2 separate regions of the Homo sapiens genome follow, and region 2 is linked to region 1. Evidence: fine-mapped expression QTL. A gene starts in region 1. The other region holds a variant in brackets. All regions are shown on one strand. Distances are from middle to middle.

Region 1 (11,142 bases):
CCTGAAGGCAGCCCAAGGGGCAAGGAAGGACTGAGCCCCCAGGTCCTCGTTTCCACCCTGACTTGGCACTCTAGAAAACCAGGATGAAGCTTGTTTCCAAACAGGATACTCACTGACTCAGATACGAAATGAAAAAGGCACACTTCCTCTGTGAAGTCTTAATGTATGCTACTTAGTGGAGAAGGGGAAAGACGTGTATATTGTATTACTGTATGTGGTATTTTGCAAGTAATGAAGCATTTTAACTGGCTCCATCATAGCCCTTTCCACATTACAGTTCCAATCGTCCAGGAGGGCTTGTGGTCAGTTCAAAAGGCACTCAACATTGAATCAGGAGATCTGTATCCTGGAACAGTAAAAGCTGACAGCCTAGAGGGACGAGGTGTCATCCCTTCATCACACAGGAGGATGTCGGATGCACACTCTCCCCTGCCTGGCTGCTGCTGGCTTTTTCCTGGCCAACATCTACAACTTGACACATCTTGCTGCTTAAATTTTCCATCTTAGAAAACTTTACCCAAGAAAACTGGTTTTGGTGTTTAGTTTTTAGTGGCTCTGTGTGAGAGAGGTGACACTGTCCATATGCTAAGGTTGGCCAGCCATTTAGGGGATACGTTTTCCATTCTGCTGGCTACATTTGAGAAGACCACTGAATAGTCTCAGAAATATCATCAAGAATAGTTTTAGGGGCTGGGCACGGTGGCTCATGCCTGTAATCCCAGCATTTGGGGAGGCCAAGGTGGGTGGATCACCTGAAGTCAGGAGTTCAAGACCAGTCTGGCCAACATGGCAAAACCCCATCTCTACTAACAATTAGCTGGGCGTCGTGGCGGGCACCTGTAATCCCAGCTACTTGGGAGGCTGAGGCAGGAGAATCGCTTGAACCCAGAAGGCAGAGGCTGCAGTGAGCCTAGACTGTGCCACTGCACTCCGGCCTCGGCAACAGAGAGAGACAACGTCTCCAAAAAAAAAAAAAAGAAAAGAAAAAAAAGCTTTAGGAAATAAATGCAATCAGAAGAGGGGATGTGAGGAATGTCTTCAAGTATTTAGAAATACTTGCAATTCAGAAATTACTTATTATGTGGGATAAAAAATTATTCTTCATTTCTCCAATTTCTAGTCTCTGTTTTTATTGGTATAAGCTAATTCAGCTTTTTTCTTTTTTCAGAAAATGAATGAGAAAGAACAAATATTCTTCTACCTTAGTAAAATTTTTGCATGGTAAAATCATATTTTAAGAAAGAAGTCTTTGAAATAATTTTAATACAAATGTTCTTGAAAATGTTGTAAAGTGCCCTATTAACATAGTAATAGCACCAGTAAGAACAGTATATTATACCAAATGTAAGTAGAAACAGTGAGATCACTCAATGTTTATTCGTTCTTTCTAGGATGTTGATGTGGAAGACCCACTGCCCACCCCCCACCACACACACACAGAGCTGGCTTAAAAGGGGCAGCTACTATAACACAATCTTGAACAAATTATCACGCCATCCCCCTGGCGAAAAGGACACTAACCCTCTCAATCTAAATCTAATCTGGGGCAGATTTTTGAATTTGGAAAGCCCAACTTTAAGCCAATTTCAGTCTTTAGATAAAACTCAAAACTAGTTTTGACACAAAACTAGTCTTTTGTGCCAATTGTTAATTTTTTTAGGAGAAACTATCAAACATTTCCTCAAGAAAAAAAATGGGGAACATATAACTAAAAGGAATACTTAGACCTTGCTTAACAATACAGAATTTCAGATGACTGAATTAGGAGGTGGAGGGGAAAAGTAAGAAGTGCAGAGACATTCATATCCGAAATCTAGCAAAGTAAGGGGTCCTCATCTAATACAACGCACCTATAAATCACGAGCAAGAAACTAATCTGCATGTACAACCTACACAATCACAAAAGCAGCCAACGAAGAACCTAAAAACGCACGACTGTATCAGGAAGAAGCGGAAGCAGGGTAGTTTAAGTGAACTAAATCCCCTCTCTAGGCAAGAAGTCTAAAACTGATAAAAATGCACCTGCATATCCGCTAAAGAAACAGAGGTATTACAAATGCCAGGAGTCAGTATCAGAAACAGGAATTGCTTTCATGGAAAATGAACTGGGTGAGGGAGGGTATACTCATTGATTCTTTTACAACTGCGTGTAATTATTCTCACTAGAATTTTAGTGTTTATTATTTTAAAAACAGGGATACTTAAAATACAGTTCGGCCGGGCGTGGTGGCTCACACCTGTAATCCCAGCCCTTTGGGAGACCGAGGCGGGCGGATCACGAGGTCAGGAGATGGAGACCATTCTGGCTAACATGGTGAAACCCCGTCTCTACTAAAAACACAAAAAAATTAGCCGGGCATGATGGCAGGTGCCTGTAGTCCCAGCTACTCAGGAGGCTGAGGCAGGAGAATGGCGTGAACTCGGGAGGCAGAGCTTGCAGTGAGCCGAGATTGCGCCACTGCACTCCAGCCTGGGTGACAGAGTGAGACTCTGTCTCAAAAAAAAAAAAAAATTCAGTTCACACATGGTTACTGTGCATAGGCTGTGAGCCCTGGTTCTCAAGAGCATCACCAAAGGTTTCAAACATTACCCACAGAATCCTCACTAACCCCACGGAAAGACGGAGCTCAGAGAGGATTCAAGTCGGCCGGCCTGGCTCTGGATCCTGGACTTGCCCCCCTATCTAAAGACCCTTGGGAAAAATCTCTGAGACTCCCAACTAATATTAATATCCAGGTTTCATATCAAAAAACAAGTCACAATTTTTCAAATAAATCAGGAAAAACATCATGAGGAATGCAGAATGGAATGCCATTGTTGTTACAATTATCCCAAGAAGCAAAGCAAAGGTTTACTACTATAATGGCCTAAATAATGTATTTCTAGAACACCATTAAACATATTCAGAACAATCCATTCAAAGAAAAGAAATCAATTTGTCCTAGAACAATATATTGGATGTTCATGTTAAGGGATTTGAAAAACTTCACCTGAAGTAAGCAGTTAACCAGTAACTATTGAAGTTTCTTGGTTTTCTTTTTCCTCTGATTAAACTGCTTTCGAACAGTTTGCAAGCTGTGTCAGTGCACTGGGCCATAAAAAGAAACCAAAAGCAAAATAAGTCTGATAAGTTCGTCACTTGAAAGCAGTTGTAAATACAGAATGATCAAAACACCACAGAACTGGCCAAAATGAGGTTAAAAAATTCTCTCTGGACTTTACTGAAATTATCCTCAGCATCTATTTTCCAAACACATTTCTCAGTTGGCTATCACGAATTTCTTTCTTTTTTCTGCTAATTTTTTGATTATGCTGTTCCTTCGTAAACTCCAATTCTTCAGGAAAAAAAGCCTATCTGAAATGCCGATAAATATGCTGCTTGCAGGCAGAATTTCTGTAGGAAAAGCTAACTTCATCAAGATAAAAAGACTTTTACAAAACCCAAGACTAAATTTTGGTTCAATTTTGCTATCTTGCCATCCCGTCTGAGGTGCCTCCGCCGCTGGCAGGGTCTTAGTCTGCAGAAGGAACACCGGGCACCATCTGGGTTGAGGACAAAGGCACTAGCTCTAGCTTTTCTCCAATCACAAGCTACCATTTCCCCTAAAAAGCCCCACTGACCATGGGCTTTCCTTCCTGCTTGTGGACGCCCTCCTAGCAGCTCTTAAAAGCCCAAGATGCGGCAGGGGTCTCTGCTCAGTCAGTACCAACCACAGCAACACACTAGAACGGTTTACACGCTTTCTGATGTTGGCAGGATGGCTGTATGACTAATCCTCACATTTAACTCAACGAGATTTTTAATAAGTATTTCAAAAAGGAGAAAATTGCACAATTACAGGCATAATTCAAATCAATATTGCTGAATGCCTTGGTTCCTATTGAGATTTTTATTCTGCAATTTAAAATTACTTTGTAATTAAGGAGGTGGGTGGGTAAGTTCATTTAAAAGAACCAAACAACTAAACCTATCCAATTTAGCTTGATTAAATAAAACCCTAGAAGGCCGATTCTTAAGATGCAATCGTAGAGGGCACATTCAGACACTCAGAGAGCAAGGGCTCAGGGAAGTATAACCCTGACCACCATCCTGGACTAAGCCGAGCCCGGCCCTAGAGGCACTCAGCGCACAGGCAAGCACAGGTCCCGGCGTCCTCGCCCGGTCAGTGCGCTGAGCTCTCCGCCTGAGTTTTAAAAACTGGCACAGCTGCTTTTAAACACTGGCACATTTTTGGTGGCATAAGGACCACCAAACACGACCCAAAGTAGAAGCCCTTAACTTACAAGGTCTCGAAGTGGACATGGACAGATTTGCGCTTTCTGGAAAGGCGAACTGCAAGCCTAAGCTCGGGCGCGCCACGCTTCCCACCGGACGCCCACCGGGCCGAGCCCGGCCACTCCTCGCACCCACCCGGGCGGTCTCACCCGCCCCGCCGGCCCCACCCACGGGCTGCGGGCTGCTCCTCAGGACAACCCGCACAGAGGGCGGCAGAGGCCCAGCCCAGCCAGGGCGGCCACCGGCCGCTATCCGCCCGGGTGACCTTGGGCAGACACGACTCCTCCCCGAGTCCACCTGCCAGGCACTGAGGCGAGGGGCTACCTCAGCCCGCGGGGTCCCAGGACCCCAGGCCCGGACCAAGGCGGCGGAGGGGACGCCCAGCAAGCCCGCGGGGTTGTGACCTTCACCCGGACGCGGACTATCTACTAAGGACCGAGCTCCCCGGGTCCCCGAGTCCGCCCCGCGGCTTCCCCTCGCACCGGCCCAGGGCTCTCTCAGCCCCTTCCCGATCCCGGGACAGAGGGCGCAGGGACCCGGCGCCCGCTCCGCTCGGACCCGCTGGGGACCGTCCCGCTCCTACCGCCGCCTCGGCCCCCGCCTGCCCCGCCCCGGTCCGCGGCACGGACTCACCGCCTTGGCCAGCGCCAGGCGCCGAGCGCTCAGCAGCCGCGACAGGCCCCGGACCCCCGACATGTCTGCTGTTGCCGCCGCGCAGTCCCGCCAGTCCCTGCGCAGACTGCGCCTGCGCACCACACCGGGGTCGAGCTGGCGGGGGAGGGGGGATACCGCGCCTGCGCACCACGCCGGAGTCGAGCGGGGCTGCAGTGGGGGACATCGCGCCTGCGCACCATGCCACGCCCGGAGCGGGTACTGAGTGGGGGCGCCGCGCCTGCGCAAAGCGGACCCGCGGACGGTGGCGTTAAGGGAACGCTGAGGTCCCGCGCTCCCCGACCGAGGTAGAGCGGGCCCTGTTCCGGGGAGGTGGTGGGCACCAACATTTTTAAAGCCCCGTGGGTGGTTCTCCGGGATCGCCCAGACCGAAGGGCCTGAACGCCCAGACCGCAGGGAATGGGGTCGGAGGGGGGCGCTCGTCCGCGGAGGTGGGCGGGAGCGGCCCGGGGCCTCCGACCTCTTGTTTATTATACATCCCTTGATTAACTAAACTATTTTGTAATTGTGTGTGTTTGTGGAGGTCACATGTAAACAAACTTAAAGTGACTCTACTTTGTGAAAATGTGAAACTTCGTGTAGGTACTCAGTAAATCAGTAAATTCTTACTAACGTTAGCCCCCAGCCTAGCTATGGAGGGTGCATGCTGAGCCCGAAGCAGAGAACTCTGTAATCTCTGCATTCATCACCACCACGAGGAGGCCTCAGAAGCTTCTAGCACTGTTTGCACCTTCCCCACATCACCCCTCCCTGCCTTCCTCACAGTCTTCCTTCTGATCAGAAGACCCTTTCCTTCTTTCTCTGCCTGTCAAAATGCTGCTCACTCTTCAAACCCTAGCTCATATGAAAGTGTCCGGTGTGAGCCCACTTTTATCGAGTTGATTCTGTATCTTTGATACAACTGTATGAGGGTTCTCCAGAGACACAACAAATAGAAGGGAGACGTGAGGAATTGGTTTAAAGGTTCAATTGCTAATCTCATCCAAAAACACCCTTACAGACACGCCCAGAAATAATGCTTAACCATGTATCTGAGCACCTCATGATGCCGTCAAGTTGACAAACAAAATTAACCATCGCAGCAGCCATACATTTAAACATATTTGTACCAGAGAACTTACCTGATTCTACCTGCACTTCAGATGCTTAAGACATGTCTGTTTTCTCCACTTTCCCCAACCAGATTGTGAGTCGCTTTCATCTTAAGTTCTTGTTTTTTTTTTCCTTTTTCTTTTTCTTTTTTTTTGGGGGGGACGGAGTCTCGTTCTGTCACCAGGCTGGAGTGCAGTGGCGCGACCTCGACTCACTGCAACCTCCACCTCCCAGGTTCAAGCGATTCTCCTGCCTCAGCCTCCCGAGTAGCTGGGACTACAGGTGCCCGCCACCATGCCCGGCTCTGGTCTAGTTTTTTTCTTCTTTGAATCCCGTAGGGCCTCAGTGCTGTGCAGCAAGCACATAGTTAAAACTGAAGAAAAATTTCTTGAATAAAAGTAGTTAACGTTTTTATTCTTTACTTCAAGGTATATCTCCATGAATAACCTAAATGATCCCCCAAATTGGAATATCCGGCCTAATTCCAGGGCGGATGGTGGTGATGGAAGCAGGTGGAATTATGCCCTGTTGGTTCCAATGCTGGGATTGGCTGCTTTTCGTAAGTCATGGTTTTCTTAAAATTCGTGTTTTCCAGGCTGAGAGTGTGGAGCCCCGGTGAGGGAGGCAGCATGGTGTGGGAGCCTGAAGGCCGTGACTTTGGGACCTGCCAGGGACAGCCGAGTTTTATCCCCTGCAGTGAACCGTGGGCAAATCACTTAAGCTCTGAGCCTCAGTCTTCCTGTTCACAGGAGATGGATAATCATACTTAACCTCAGCACACTGCAAGGATTAAGTCAGCCAAGGCGTTTAGAAGCATTTTGTGTGGGGTGGGTTTTAATAACTTAGTTCCCTCTGAAGGCTTTGCTGCTCTCAAGTCGGGGAGGAGGTTCCTTATTTCAGGTGCCCTCATAAGGACTGCTGGGGAACAAAACGGGTGTAAAGGAAACCAGTGGGCTGGGCGTGGTGGCTCATACCTGTAACCCCAGCACTCTGCGAGGCCCAGGTGGGCAGATCGAGTGACCAGCCTGAGCAACACAGCAAAACCCCGTCTCTACAAAAAAATACAAAAATTAGCAAGTCGTGACGGTGCACACCTGTAGTCCCAGCTACTCAGGAGGCTGAGGTGGGAAGATCAGTGGAGCCTGGGAGGTCGAGGCTGCAGTGAGTGGAGATGGCACCACTTGCCCTCCAGCCCGAGCAACAGGGTTAAAAAAAAAAAAAAAGAAAACCAGTTTTGGAAAACCAGTGATGTTTAATGTTTAGGAAATCAGTCTTTGGGAGACTTCATCCATGAAATCTCTGCTTGGCCTGGCCAGAAAAATTCTCTCTAGTTTAGATTGACTTGGCACCACTTTGGGGACCTGCCGGTCATATGCAGACTTACATCCCCACCACACAATCAATTCACTGATGCAGAGGAGTGAGTTTTGTGTTTCTTCACATTCCATGGTTCTGGGCTGGCACTTAGGAACATGAGAAACTGAATAATTGAATGGAAGAAAGGCAAAACTGCCCTCTAGTTGTAGCGATACATTTTGTGTAGTGGCTTTTTATCTGCTTCCATGTCTCAGGTCAGAAGTTTTGCTGTAGAGGAAGAGGAGGCTGGTAAGAGCAGGTGGTTTTTATGATTCAGTGATCTGCGCAGTGCTTGCTTCTTGGTGAAAGACAGGGCAGGTCCACATCCAATCCTAAGGGGCTGCCATGTAAAAAGCTCATCCGCCTGCAGGCTTGGGAAAAAAAACCCTTAACACTTGGAGAGGCTACTGTTGCCTGTGGCTAGGGTGAGTGGATTGGAAGGCTTAAAATTACTCTGACTAATGTAATAATTAATTGGCTTTGAGGCTGGGAGAGGCCCTGAAGTGACTCATTTTCCATTTGTTTTTCAGACTCATCTCCAGCTTTTATAGCCTTTCATGATAACTTTCACTTTTGAAATTCTTACCTTCCCTTCTTGGACTTTTGAAATGATGCTTTCTGTCCCTGAAAAGGGTTGAAGAATATTTTTTTCTTCCTGGTTTTTTGCTGAGGTAGTGTGGTCAGAGAGAACTGTTAAGTTGGTGTTCTTGTAAGGATTCTCCAAAGGTGTGTTACGATGTGTTTGAGGTTCTGTTGCACATAGGAGCGTTAACCAGCCCCTAGTGTAGTCTAGAAGAAGAGGCAGACATATGAATACTTGATAAGCGCTATTGGTTGATTTATTGATGAGAGGCTAGTTTTGTCCTGATCACTCGCTTCATTTACTAGAATTTTTTTTTTTTTTCGAGACGGAGTCTTGCCCTGTCGCCAGGCTGGAGTGCAGTGGCGCGATCTCGGCTTGCTGCAACCTCTGACTCCCTGGTTCTAGTGATTCTCCTGCCTCAGCCTCCCGAGTAGCTGGGATTACAGGCGCCCCTCACCACGTCCAGCTAATTTTTGTATTTTTAGTAGAGACGGGGTTTCACCACATTGGCCAGGATGGTCTCGATCTCCTGACCTCATGATCTGCCCGCCTCGGCCTCCCAAAGTGCTGGGGTTACAGGTGTGAGCCACCGTGCCCAGCCCATTTACTAGATTTTTACTTAACATAACATAGAAATGTGTGTAATTGTGCTTGCCCGAAAGAGCAGTCCCTGGAGAAATTCTTACCCTGAGTAGCTCCCAGGGGAGAATATTCAGTATTTCAGCACTCCAGAGGGCTTCTCTCTCTTCACACCTCCTCTGTCATTCTGCTTCCCCCCTTTTCTCTCAGTCTTCTTGATTGCCCTTTCCCCATCTCTCTCTCCGTGCTTTTCCCATCTCTCCGTGCTTTCTCCCCTCTAGTGTTCCTGTACCTCCTGTTTCCTCCCCTGACCCAGAAAACATAGTTTTAGAGCTGAAAGGGACTGGTTGAGTTCACTGGGCCCAACTCAGTTTCTTTTAATTAAATATTTTATTTTGGGGTCATGTAAATCACATGCAGTTGTCATCAGTAATGCAGAGAGCCCGTGTACCCTCTACCCAGCTTTCCCCAGTGGAAGCATCTGCAAAACGATAGTGCAGTGTCACAGCCAAGACATCTGCCAGGATGCGGTCAAGATACCCCAATCCCTGGGGCCTCACGTGCTGCCCTGTGTACCGCCCCTCCCTCCATAGCCCCCGGCAGCTACTGATCTGTTCTTCATCTCCAGAACTTTGTCATTTCAAGAATGTTATGTAAATGGAATCAAACAGTATATAACCTTTCGGGTTGACTTTTTTCATTCAGCATAACCCCCTGAGGTCCATGCAGATTGTTGCTGTATCAGTAGTTCATAGATAGTTTCATTGCTGAGTCGTGTTTTATGACATGGACGTACCACAGTGTGTTTAACCACTGAAAGACATCTGGGTCCTTTCCAGTTTTCAGCTGTTATGAATAAAGCTCTTATAAACATTCTTGTGTAGGTTTTTGTGTCGATGTAAGTTTTCATTTCTCTCGGATAAAGGGCCAGAAGTGAAATTACTGGGTTTTATGGAGGTTGCACGTTTAGTTTTTTAAGAAGGGCTGAAATGTTTCCCGAGTTGCTGCACCGTTTTAGGTTCTCACCAGCAATGCAGAGCTGATCGGTTTCTCCACCTGGTCAGTATTTGGTGTTTCACTGCTGTCCCGTCTGCCCCATCCTGATGGGTGTGTGGTGCTGTCTCATCGTGGCTGCAGCGTGCAATGTCGAGCATCAGCGTGCTCACACTGCTGTCCCGTCTGCCCCATCCTGATGGGTGTGTGGTGCTGTCTCGTCGTGGCTGCAGTGTGCGATGTCGAGCATCAGCGTGCTCACACTGCTGTCCCGTCTGCCCCATCCTGATGGGTGTGTGGTGCTGTCTCGTCGTGGCTGCAGTGTGCGATGTCAAGCATCAGTGTGCTCACACTGCTGTCCAGTCTGCCCCATCATGATGGGTGTGTGGTGCTGTCTCGTCATGGCTGCAGTGTGCGATGTCGAGCATCAGCGTGCTCACACTGCTGTCCCGTCTGCCCCATCGTGATGGGTGTGTGGTGCTGTCTCGTCGTGGCTGCAGTGTGCGATGTCGAGCATCAGTGTGCTCACACTGCTGTCCCGTCTGCCCCATCCTGATGGGTGTGTGGTGCTGTCTCGTCGTGGCTGCAGTATTCGATGTCGAGCATCAGTGTGCTCACACTGCTGTCCCGTCTGCCCCATCGTGATGGGTGTGTGGTGCTGTCTCATCGTGGCTGCAGTGTGCGATGTCGAGCATCAGCGTGCTCACACTGCTGTCCCGTCTGCCCCATCCTGATGGGTGTGTGGTGCTGTCTCATCGTGGCTGCAGTGTGCGATGTCAAGCATCAGCGTGCTCACACTGCTGTCCCGTCTGCCCCATCCTGATGGGTGTGTGGTGCTGTCTCGTCGTGGCTGCAGTGTGCAATGTCGAGCATCTCAGCGTGCTCACATTGCTGTCCCGTCTGCCCCATCCTGATGGGTGTGTGGTGCTGTCTCATCGTGGCTGCAGTGTGCAATGTCGAGCATCTCAGCATGCTCACATTGCTGTCCCGTCTGCCCCATCCTGATGGGTGTGTGGTGCTGTCTCATCGTGGCTGCAGTGTGCGATGTCGAGCATCAGCGTGCTCACACTGCTGTCCCGTCTGCCCCATCCTGATGGGTGTGTGGTGCTGTCTCATCGTGGCTGCAGTGTGCGATGTCAAGCATCAGCGTGCTCACACTGCTGTCCCGTCTGCCCCATCCTGATGGGTGTGTGGTGCTGTCTCGTCGTGGCTGCAGTGTGCAATGTCGAGCATCTCAGCGTGCTCACATTGCTGTCCCGTCTGCCCCATCCTGATGGGTGTGTGGTGCTGTCTCATCGTGGCTGCAGTGTGCAATGTCGAGCATCTCAGCGTGCTCACATTGCTGTCCAGTCTGCCCCATCATGATGGGTGTGTGGTGCTGTCTCGTCATGGCTGCAGTGTGCGATGTCGAGCATCAGCGTGCTCACATTGCTGTCCCGTCTGCCCCATCGTGATGGGTGTGTGGTGCTGTCTCATCGTGGCTGCAGTATTCGATGTCGAGCATCAGCGTGCTCACACTGCTGTCCCGTCTGCCCCATCGTGATGGGTGTGTGGTGCTGTCTCATCGTGGCTGCAGTGTGTGATGTCGAGC
Region 2 (11,142 bases), 160 kb before region 1:
TGGATTGGATTGAGAGATGCCTAGACAGCTGGTGGAGAATTGTTTCTGAGAGTGTTTCCAGAGGAGATTGGCATGTGATTCGGTGGACTGAGAGAGGAAGAATCAGCCTTAATGTGGGTCAGTTCCACTGGCTGGAGGCCCAGCTGGGAAAAACAGGCACAAGAAGAGGAGAATTTGCTTTCTGTTCTCTCTTTCTCTCCCTTCCAGGGAATGATGCCTTTTTCTCCTCTTGCCCTTGGACATCAGAATCCAGGTTCCTCAGCTCTTAGACTCCAGGACTTGCACCAGTGGCCTCCTGGGGGCTCTCAGGCCTTTGGCCTTGAGCTAGGAGCTGCATCATCAGCTTCTCTAGTTCTGGGGCTTCCAGACTTGGACTGAGCCACACTACCAGCTTCTCTGGTTCTCCAGCTTGCAGACAGCCTATTGTGAAACTTGTCTGTCTCTGTGATCATGTAAGCCAATTCCTCTAATAAGGCTCCTCACATATAACCTATTGGTTTTGTATCTCTGGAGACTCCTGACTAATAAAATCTATGTTTTAAAAAATCCCATGGAATCTATTTTAAAAAGCTCCCATGACTACTAATGAGTTTAGCAAGGTCATAGGATACAAAGTCAACCTAGAAAAATAAATTGTACTTCTATATACTAGGAATGAACTAAAAATTGAAATTAAAAAAGTCTCATTTACATTAAGAACAAAAATATAAAACTTAAACATGAATCTAACATAAATATGCAGGATATGTATGCTGAAAACTACAAAACACCGATGAACATAATTAAAGAAAACCTAAATAGAGACACATACCATGTTCATGGATTGGGAGAGTCAGTATTGTTCAAATGCCAATGCTCCCCAAATTGATTTACTGATATGTCACAATCTCAATCAAAATCCCAGCAGGGATTTTTGTAGATATCGGTCAATAAGCTAATTCTAAAATTTATATGGAAAAAAAAGAACTAGAATAGCCAGAACAATTCTGAGGAAGAATAAAATTGAAAGATTCACATTATTTGATATCAAGTCTTATTTTAAAGCTATAGTAGGTAAGATAATGTGGTATTGTTAAAAGGTTAAAAATACAGATATATAGAACAGAATACAGAGTCCAGAAACAGATCCACAAAAATACAGCCAATTGATTTTTCACAAAGGTATAAACGCCATTCAGTATAAAAAGATAGTCTTTCTAATACATGGTGCTGAGACATCTGGATAGTCACATGCAAAAACAATAAATCTTGACCCCTACCTCACACATCTCATACCAAAGTTAACAAAAAGTGGATCATAGACCAGAATGTAACATATGAAACTATACAACTTTAGAAGAAAGCATAAAAGAAAAATCTTTGTAACCTTAGGTTAGGTAATGAGATGTGGCAACAAAATCAATCTACAAAAAGAGAAATTGATAAATTAAACTTAATCAAAATGGAATACTTTCACTATCTGTAATATCCTGTCAAAAGAATAAAAAGACAAGCCACAGACTACGAGAAAATATTTATAAATCATACATATGAGAAAGGACATGTTTCCAGAATATATAAAGAGATCTCTAAACTGAATAGTAAACAAGCAAATGAGCTGGTTTTCTTAATGCACAAAAGATCTGAAAGACCATTCACCAAAGATGACACACGGATGCAAATAACCACATGAAAAGATATGCAGCATTGTTAGTCACAGGGAAATCCAAACTAAAACCCTAACAAGATTCCAGTATTAAAATGGCTTTGAAAAAAGTAATACCAAGTGCAAACCCAAAGATGCTGAGCAACTGAAACACTCATTCACTGCTGGGGGATAAGAGTTAAAAACACGCTTACTATTCATGAAACGAAGACCTACGCTCATAGAAACACCTGTATGTGAACGTCTATTGACTGCAGCTCCATTCATAAACACCAAAACCTAAAAACAACCCAAATATCCCTCAACAGTTGAATGACACATGGGGTTGGTCCATACCTCATCAATAACAAGAAACAAACCAGCGGCCCGCAGCACCGTGGATGAGCCCAAATCCTAACCGGCAGCAACAACAAGAAACCAGCTGGTGACCCGCAGCACCGTGAGCAAATCTCAACAGCACTGTGCTGACTGAAGCTGGCCTCCAAAGGCCATGCGTGTGACTCCGTGTGGAAGACATCCAGAGAAAGGCAAGGGACAGGCTGCAGGGATAGAGCACACATCGGCCGTGGCTGGGGGCAGGGGGCTGTGACTGCAAACAGCAGCAGAGGAGAAATGTTTGGGGAGGGGATGGCTCTGAATCTTCATGACGGTGGCAGTCACATCCCACTGAATGCCGAAAAGAATGAACTTTAGTGTATGTAAATTTTTAAATAAGTGTTAGAAAATGTATCCTGCAGTAACCATACACTTGAATTCTAGCTGAACTTAAGCAGTCAGTGAGACAGCATCCTAGCCCGAGACAGGCCACATCCGTGGCTCCAGTGAGTCATGCTAAACCCAACAGCCCTGTAGCCCACCTAAAAGACAGAATGAAAACCTAGAAGCTCTGACTCGTATTGTGCAGGGAGCTCAGGGCCTCCTCTGTGTGCTCACATGTCTTTGGAGCCCTCCTCCTTGTTTCCCTCTCCAGTCTCCCACCTCTCCCCACTCCTCCATCCTCCCACTCTTAGCACCTGCACCAAGATGTGCACCAGGGGAAGCCACGGGCTGTGGCCCATCTGTCTTGGCTTCCCTGGGGAAGGCCGGAGGCTTGGAGGACAAGCCAGTGAACTCAGGACAAAGAAACACCAGGTCCAGACTACACTCTCAGGGGTCATTTCTAGATCATTACTAAAGCCTCTCTGAACGTGTGGAGCATCTTAAATAAATAAATAAACAGAAGCGCTGGGTCCAGCTCAGCCCCAAAGGGCACCTGGTGGCTCCAAGCCTTACTTCCTCACCTTAAATCAACAGACCATGGCCACAGCACTCTGAAGCCTGTGCCGGCTCAAGGCGGTTTATGGATTTAGGGTGCCCTGCCATAAACCTCCCCTTTTTTTCAGTTTATTGTGAAGAGATTGAAGATTAGAAATAAAAGCTGGGATTTGCTGCTGTTGTTGCTTGCTTTGCTTATTTTGCCCTGTTGGAATATTTTTAAGCTTCAAAAAGAGCATATAACCCCTTTCACTGCCCTGGCAATCAGTGAGGAACCCTCACCATACAACCTACCAGATGCAATCTAAGCAAACTTCCAGAAATTTCCGTGGGCCAGAGGACATGAACCAGATGCAGTGGACTGAGACTTCGGGAACTGCTCAACCTCCCCCAGAACAGAGTGGGTGTGACCAGCACTCTGGCCAGGTAGGGGAGTCAGGCCAGGCAGCAGGAGGGCCACAGTGTCAGGAGCAGACGGGCGGACCCTGACCCCCAGCCTCCATGCCTCTTCCAAAGTCTTCTTGGAGAGTCCCCCTGAAGGTAGCTCCAAAATATCCCACGCTGCTGGGAGCAGGGTGGGAAGTCCAGCAGCAGGGAACCAGGCCCAGGCCTCCCTCCCGCAGGCTCCAGGCTTCCCAGGCCCCAGGAGCTGGGACCCATTCACTAGCGGGGACAGAGTAGAGCGAGCTGGGGGTTGTGAACTGACCTGGAGACACACAGGAGGATCTGGGGCAGGGGGTTGAGCAGCCCCTCCCAGGCACTGGGGGTGCACAGCTCCATGGGAGACTAGTGGCTGCTGGCTGTGGGGCAGCCTGCCACCAGGGCCCCAGTACCCTCTCATCTGGAGCGGGTTGGCTGGTGCCCTCCTGCCCCACCCAGGGGTCCTGAGTTCCGGCTGGAGCCCACCCTGTTACCCAGGAAATGTCATGTTGTCCCCGCCTCCTCCCTGCAAGCCCACTCAACCCCATCCTGGGACCACCCAGGGCCCATGTCTCTCCAGCCACTGGTGGAGGCAGCAACCCCCTTCATCTTCAAAATGGCGAATGGATTCACCCCGGAGGCTCCATGCCACCATCTTATCTTGTTTAGGAAAATGGTCCACAGTCTCCTCTCCCAGAGGGGTAACAGGCCCCGCGTTACAGCACAGGACAACTCAGCACTTCAGAGTCGCAGGGATGGGGGAGATGGGGTGAAAAGCCCCCTCACCACAGAGCTTCCTGCCCAGGCCCACAGCTTCCAGGGTGTCACACAGGCCACCCCAAGATTGAAACCACACCAGGGAAGCCCAGTGTAGACTTTGCCAAATCCTTCATTTTGGGGGAAAAAAGGCTTAATTTTGTACAAGGTTCTCTCACCGACAAGCAAAAGCAGACGGTGCAGAATGAGGATGATTTCCTGATGTAGCACACAAGGCCGAGAGCTCTCGGGCTGCCTTCTCTGTCCCAGCCTACGAGGCTCACACCCAAGGCTGACCCCGACCCAGGGACACCCTTCTTCAACAGATTTTGGAGCCTACGCTTCCTGACAGTTATAAACCTCACAACCTAAGGGCCTCCTGGGTGAGGGCCTGAACATGCGTGACACGGAGTATGACTGAGCCTGAACACGCGTGACACGGAGAACCAAGTGTCAAGTGTTCGAGGTACCAAGGGTGGCACTCACCTCCAACAGCAGCCTTCCCTCCAGCACGGCAGACCCTGCAAGAGGACAGCTGTCTCCGGGCGAGGGGGCGCCGGCCGCAGGCTGCCGTGAGCTCTGCTCCTGCACGACTGTCAGAGAAGAAAAGACACATTAGGCACCCCCAACCCTTGGCCTGGCCACTCTTCTTCATTCACATCTTTCCTGTGTTTCCCCGCGTTCACCCCACGGTTCTCACCTGACATCTGGCCTGGGCTGCACTGACCCCTCTGCAGGCCACGCAGCATTCCACAGCCCTGAGAGTCCAAGGTGGGGCAGGAGGAGCTGAGACACAGGCCTCAGATCAGCCAGGAGAGGCAGGGGGACACCAGGACATGGAGGCAGAGCCTGGCCTGAGGACGCCCCCACACCCGCTCTGCTCTGCAGAAACTGCTCTCTGTCCCCTCCTGCCCAACCCCCCAGGGCCCCCACCCAGTCTTGGGACAAAGTCTGGCTTCCTGCCAGATCCCCCTGAAGCCACCCAGGAGGTCCCTACGGCCCCTCCCCTGAGACCCACGGCACTGTTGGGCTGCACCCCTTTGAGGGCTGGGCCAAGGTCCCCTGCGTCCACCTGGGTCTTCTGTGCCCTGCACACCCGCATCGCCTCTCCCTCCTGGAACCCACGCAGCCCCCTCCCTAGTGAGAAGCAGGCCAGGCCCCACGCCCCCAGGGGCCGCACAGAACACCGCAGGGCAGGAAAAGGCAGGTCCAGGACAGTCGCCAGTGCTACC[C/T]CCTTCCCAGTGACTGCGCACAGCCCCCAAGGACACTCCCACTCCTGAGGATGGTGCATTCTCCATTTTTGGGTGCAGAAGGGGACAGATGACACGTTCACCTTCCAGACTGACCAAGGGCTGAGTTCCGGACCCAGCACAGGTGCTCACTGCCCACTCAGTGTCCTCATGGGCACTGGAGACATGGGAGGGACACCCCTCCCCAGCTTCTGAGAGGACTGAGGGGCAAGGGTGTCCCAGCAAGCAGCTGGCCCCAGTGCGTGGACCAAAGCGCACCCCAGCAAGGCCGGGGGGGCATCTGCTGCTCCCGCGTCTCCCGGATCCTCAGCTGAAGTCACAGGTGGTGTCCGCTCAGGCAGATGCTACCTTGCCACCAGTTCTGACCTTGAGATGGCATAAAAACTGTCATCACGCATGGCACCTTAAGGCCAGCACACCGTCCTTCACGGTGGGCAGCCTGTGCCGGGGTCCCGGCGTGGCACAGCCCAGGCGGCCATGCTTCACCGGATCTGCCCACTTCCGCGGGTTAGGGAGACACAGCCCTTTCCAAAGCAGCCCCCCACCACCCTCACTCCCCACTGGGCCGAGCTTAGACTCCTGGCTGCCTCCACCCCACTGCTCAGCAAGAGCCCGACCCAGACAGAAAATCAAGTTTGAGGGGCACCGCCTCATCGAAAAGCGCACGTGTCTATTTGTAGCCCATCACAGTCCCAAAATGATGTGAGGCTGCTGGATATTTTAAGAACTAGAATAACCACTTGAATAAAAGCATAATGTCTCACTCAGGGTGGGCTGGACTCCCAGTCTCCAGCCCCAGGGGCACTGTGTCTGTCACCTGAGAGTGCTCTGAAATGTGTGTGGCCTGAACCTCATTGTGGGTCACTGGCTCCTGCTCCCAGGAATCCTCCTGGACTTCCAGGAAGGCATCCACCTGCTAGTCAAAGTGGTTCACACTTTGCTCTGAGCTCTCCTCACCCCACAGTCCCTGGGCCGGCAGCCCCCAGACCCACAGGACCAGCGTCTGTGGTGTCCCCAGGCCGTGGTGAGCACAGGTGGGGTCCGGACGCTGGGTTAACCTGCTCCCCATCAGGCCAGGACCCCGGAACCGGCTGCTGGACTGGGCTAGCACCCCACCCTCCACCAGAAAGGCCATACTGGGAGCCATTGATTCAGAATCTGAGGTACCAGCTGCAGGGATGCTGACGAGCTAAGGTGTCCGTGGGGGGCGAGGGCCCGAGTGAGGAGGTGAGGCAGCCAGAAGCCCGGAGACGGTGGCACCGGGTGGCCTTGGGACTCGGCCTCTCTGTTCCCCTCCCTCCCTGGTCTCTGAGCCCTCATTTCTCCCTCAACTCCCATAGCTGGTAAAAACTGGATGTTTGTTCACTGCACTAAATGTAACAAAAACTGCCCCATTTCTTCTGCCACAAAGCAGGACTATTCCGAGGAAGCATGAACAGTCCACCGAGGTGGGGGCATCCCTTGGGCAAGGGCGGCCTCTTCCCACCTGGAAACCCCAGCATCCTAGCCTCCTGCCCTCCAGGCTCAGCCAGAGACGCCACAGTTCACACAATACGCGTGTTCAGAAAGCTGAAGGTTTTTAACAGTGAAAATCAAGATCTTTCTCCCAAGTGCAGACCCAGGAGAAGCCAGGGCAAGAGGCGCCCCGGGTGTCCCAGCAGCTGACCCCGAGCCCGAGGAGAGACCCGGGCAGGAGCGGCCCCACACAGACGCTGCTGGGGTCGCCCCGTGAGACCCCCGTGCTGGCCCTGGGCGCTCCCCGCCGAGGTCCGCGGGCTGGGGCAGCGCGGGTGGGGGCACACGCCTGGGTCACCCGCACACAGACCGACCACCCAGGCGGCCGGTGCAGCCAAGCCCCATTGCAGGGGTCGCTCCCGCAGCGGAGCCGACCCCGTCCCACCCGCAATGCGCCCCGCGGACCCGGCAGCCCCGGCCTTTTCCCCGAGAAGCGCGTAGGTGCGGCGGCAGGGGCGCGCCCCTCCCGGCATCGCGTGCCCCCCGCGGGCGCCCGCCCACTTCCCCCCTACTTCCCCCGCAGCCGCCGGCGCCGTCACGCGATGGGGCCAGCCAGGCCTCGCGTGCGAGCAGCGCTCCCGCCCCCGCCCGCCCGGGCAGGGCGCCAGGAGCCCCAGGAGCGCGGGGAGCGCCAGGCGCGTGGCGGGGAATGGGGCTCGGGGTCCGCGCGGGCGCTCCGGGTGCACACGGGGCGGGCGGACCCGGCCACGGCCTCCCCAGGTCCCCCCGCCCTCCCTGAGCCTGGGGGTCCCACCTGAGGGTCCGCCCCGGGAGGGAGCCCCCATCCCCCACCTCTCCAGCCCCAGTCTCCTCCTCTGTGATGTGGAGAGAGACCCCCCCTCCGCCCAGCCACCGCAGTTGCCCATGGTGAGTGGATGGGGAGGAAGGGAGCTGGGAGCGCGGTGTCCTTCCTGGGCATTGGTGAGAAAGGTGGGCCATCACCGTGGCCCTTACAAGGCACAGCTGGGCCAGCAGGAGGGGGCCACAGGCCCAGGGCGGGAGGAGCTCTGTGCCTCCAAGACCGCAGAGGCCAACCTGTCCCCTGCCTCCCAGCCACCGCCCGGCCTGCTGGTCCCGCAGGGTCTGCAGAGAGGGGCCCTGCCAGGACCACTCCCAGGGCCCACCCCTCGGGCAATGAGAGGCTGGAAGGCTGCGTGTCAGATGAGACCCAGCCGGGTGCAGGGCAGGGCCAGGGCCGCGGGGCAGGGCTGCCCTCTCAGAGGTGAACAGTCCCCACGGCTGGGCCTGAACCCGGATCTGTAGCCTGGGCAACCCCTGTGTCCTGCCAGCACTCTGCCAACCGCGCAGAACCTCAGCCACCTTGGAGAGTCTCAGGGCCATTACCAGCCGTCCGCCCACGGCTGCAGAGTTCACTGCAACCAAGAAGGGGCTCATTTGGAACAGCGAGAATGTGAAGTCAGCACCAAGGCCTCGGGCGACCCTGTGCCCACAGCAAGGGCTGGAGCAGAGTGGCTCCCTTGGGGGCTCAGGCTTCCCATGGGGTCCTGCTAAGGGCCCTCTGTTTCTTCACACAGAGGAGACTCAGAGCAAGGTGTCACCGGGAACCCAAGGCCACCCCATCTGGCCCCCACCACGAGCACCTGGGCCTGTGACTCGGTCTGACCCACAGTCCCTGGTGGAGGAGGAGCCAGAAGGCAGGTCCAGCTGTGCGTCTGGGTGATGCCGTGATGCCCAGAAACGAAGCCACATTGCTCCCAGTCCCCTGAAGCCAATTCCCTGGTAGGGGCGGGGGAGGCGGTGCAGACGGAGGGTGGGAGGTCAGCCCTGCCATTGGAGATCACGCACCCCTGCCACTGGAGATCACGCACCCCAGCCCTGTGCAGCGACTGCGGCTGAAGTTTCCTGCTCTGTGCAGGGCTGAGTAAGGTCCATTTCAGGTCTTCAGTGCTGGACAGGGAGCTGGGCCCAGGGGGAGCTGAAAAGAAGGCGAGATGAAGAAACAGAAGAAGCAGAACAGGCAAAGCGAGCAGAAGAGGACGTCCCTTTGTCCTTCACCCAAACCGCAGCCTGGACCTGGTTCTCAGGCCTCCTGTGACCCATCCCAGGGTGCACAGGGCCCAGGCTGGATTTGGGGCAGGTGACAGTCAGGATCCCAGCACCTTGGCTGGGAAGGAGGACATGCCTCCATGAGGCCCCAGCCCACAGCTCCACAGTCCCCTCTGTGCAGTCAGGGGAGCTGGGCCCAGAAGCCAAGGGATGGATCAGCAGGGGTGGCCCCGCCAGCCCACCCCAGCCCTGGGGGAGGAGGGAAGGCACTGAGGGGCTGTGTGCTGAGCAGCACCACTGCTTCCTATCCAGGAAGCCTGGAGGAGGAGCTCAACCAGCAGAAACCCTGCTGCTTCCTTCCTGTGAGGGGAGAAGGTGGTAAGGAATGTGGGTGCTTCATGAAGGTCCCTATTGGCAGGACTGCCTGCCTCTCTGCAGAGCCCTCGGCGGGGCCTGAGTGGTGCAAGCAGCCAGATGAGAGGAAGGCCCAGGATCCCTTTCTTCTCCATCGTTTTCACTCAGCCCTTAACAGGCACATCGACCCTAAGCATCCTCGTTGGAAGGGACAGAACTCCACAGACAGGGGCGTAAGGGAGAGAGGAGCAGGCGGCCCCCAAGCTGACTCGGTTTAGGACTCCCTCTAGGGAATCATCCTAAGTAAAGCTGTCTGGCAGTCTGCAGCTCCTGGGAGCATTTCACCATAGAGGGCTTCAACAGCGACCACGGGAGTCGGTTCCACAGGCCTGGAAGGACAGTCAGAGCCACCTTGTGAGTCCAGGACTGGTCAGCCCAGGACAGGTGGGCCCAGGACAGGTGGGTCTAGGACAGGTGGGCCCAGATGCTCAGTCCTACTATGGGACACACAGGGGCTTACCCGTGCATGAGGCAGCCTGCCAGCCCCTGCTGCACCTGCCCAGGGAATGGGACGCAGGATTCCTGTCACCTGCAAGCTCATCACTTCAGAGCCCCAGAGACTCACTCAGAAAGCCTAGAGCAGGGCTGGGCTGAAATCCTGACTCAGATGGGAAGCTACTGTTGGCAGTCACAGCCGGCCCTCGAACTAATGAGGACACAGGCCTAGTGTGCTGACCGATGTCACACATCAACCACCTGCAGCACTGGGTGCTGCGATTAAACATCGTGCCTGCTGTGTTGGGAGGTGTTTCCAGATGGCGGTCCCATTTGAATCCGTGGGCTCGGTGAAGCCAGTGGTCTTCCCCAGTGTGGCTGGGCAGTCCATGGGGGGCTGGAGAGAACTAGACAGGAGGAGTCACCCCTTTTTCCTGACTCATGGCTTGAGCCAGATCAGCTCATCTCCCATTCTCCGGCCACAGGCGGGAATTTACCCCAGCGCCCCTGGCCCTCAGGCCTCTGGGCTTGGACTGAACTACACCTCGGCTCTCCTGGGTCTCCAGCTTGCAGCTGTCTGAGACACCTGCTCATAATAAGCCTCCCCATATCTGTCTCCGGTCGGTTCTGTTTTTCTGCAGAGCCCTAACTGACATGCCCTGTAAAGCCCGGCCCGAGGTCGGCCGAGAGCTCCACACCAGGCCCAGCCTCTGTGCTCTGGGTGCCTCCAAGGCAGGCCTCCTCTGGATCACTTCCTCCTCCAGCCACCCAGGGAGGTCGGACAAGCATGATGGGAACGTGCCCCCCTCCCCCCACCAACACCTGCACCTTCCCATGGGCTGCCCCCCTCCACCCCACACTGTCACCTGTGCCTTCCCGAGACCTGTCCCCAACCCCATCACCTGTGCCTTCCCATGGACTGTCCCCCCATCACCCACACCTTCCCATGGGCTGTCCACCCCACCCCTGTCACCTGCATCTTCCTGGGGGCTGTCCCCTATGGACCACCACCTGCCTGGGGCTGCACCCACTGTGAGACTCTCAGGGTCCTGGGGGTGGCGGATGACCTTGGTGAAAATTTCCCTTGAACCTGATTTCACTCACCCCTGCTTCCAGCTCAAGCTCCCTCCTGAGGGACCCTTACGACACCTCTCCCGTCCAGGAGTTGGATGGGATGCTCTGAGAAGCCTGGGACGCCCATCCAACCCTTCCCCGACGCCTGCTCGCCCCAGAATTGCCTGACCTGACTGTGGATCCAGGAAATGCTGCACAACCGTAACACGGGGAGTAAATGAGCAGAGCTTCCAGCGAGGGCCCAGGAGGTCGGGGCACCAGCGAGGGCCCGGGAGGACGGGGCTTCCAGCGAGGGCCCGGGAGGACGGGGCACCAGCGAGGGCCCGGGAGGACGGGGCTTCCAGCGAGGGCCCGGGAGGACGGGGCACCAGC

Direction of the effects. Positions count from the first base shown, and alleles are read on the strand shown. Sizes are in standard deviations (SD) of each study's normalised expression.
For the expression in subcutaneous fat of the gene that starts at base 5,008 in region 1, allele T in region 2 goes with a lower level than allele C (large effect, 3.0 SD a copy in FUSION).

The links. PIP is the estimated chance that this variant, and not a neighbour inherited with it, causes the effect.
Region 2: its variant is the best candidate, but not a certain one, in a credible set for the expression of SDHA in subcutaneous fat (FUSION, PIP 0.81).

What each region holds. Positions count from the first base shown.
Region 1 is chr5:212,186-223,327 of GRCh38, reverse strand. It overlaps SDHA (succinate dehydrogenase complex flavoprotein subunit A), which reads right to left and starts at 5,008. Exons shown (of 15, transcript NM_004168.4): 1 at 4,910-5,008. The coding sequence starts at 4,972. It overlaps CCDC127 (coiled-coil domain containing 127), which reads left to right and starts at 5,175. Exons shown (of 3, transcript NM_145265.3): 1 at 5,175-5,235; 2 at 6,469-6,599. The coding sequence starts at 6,479. RefSeq lists silencers at 4,398-4,637, 4,868-5,197 and an enhancer at 4,190-4,998.
Region 2 is chr5:370,136-381,277 of GRCh38, reverse strand. AHRR (aryl hydrocarbon receptor repressor) reads right to left here. Exons shown (of 11, transcript NM_001377236.1): 4 at 4,562-4,668. PDCD6-AHRR (PDCD6-AHRR readthrough (NMD candidate)) reads right to left here. Exons shown (of 13, transcript NR_165163.2): 6 at 4,562-4,668. Among named protein-coding and RNA genes, the nearest start is that of AHRR, 54 kb to the right of the region's middle. RefSeq lists silencers at 6,915-7,054, 7,105-7,564, 7,845-7,924 and enhancers at 7,937-8,567, 9,355-9,414, 10,295-10,434. The variant C/T (reference allele first, on the strand shown) is at 5,308.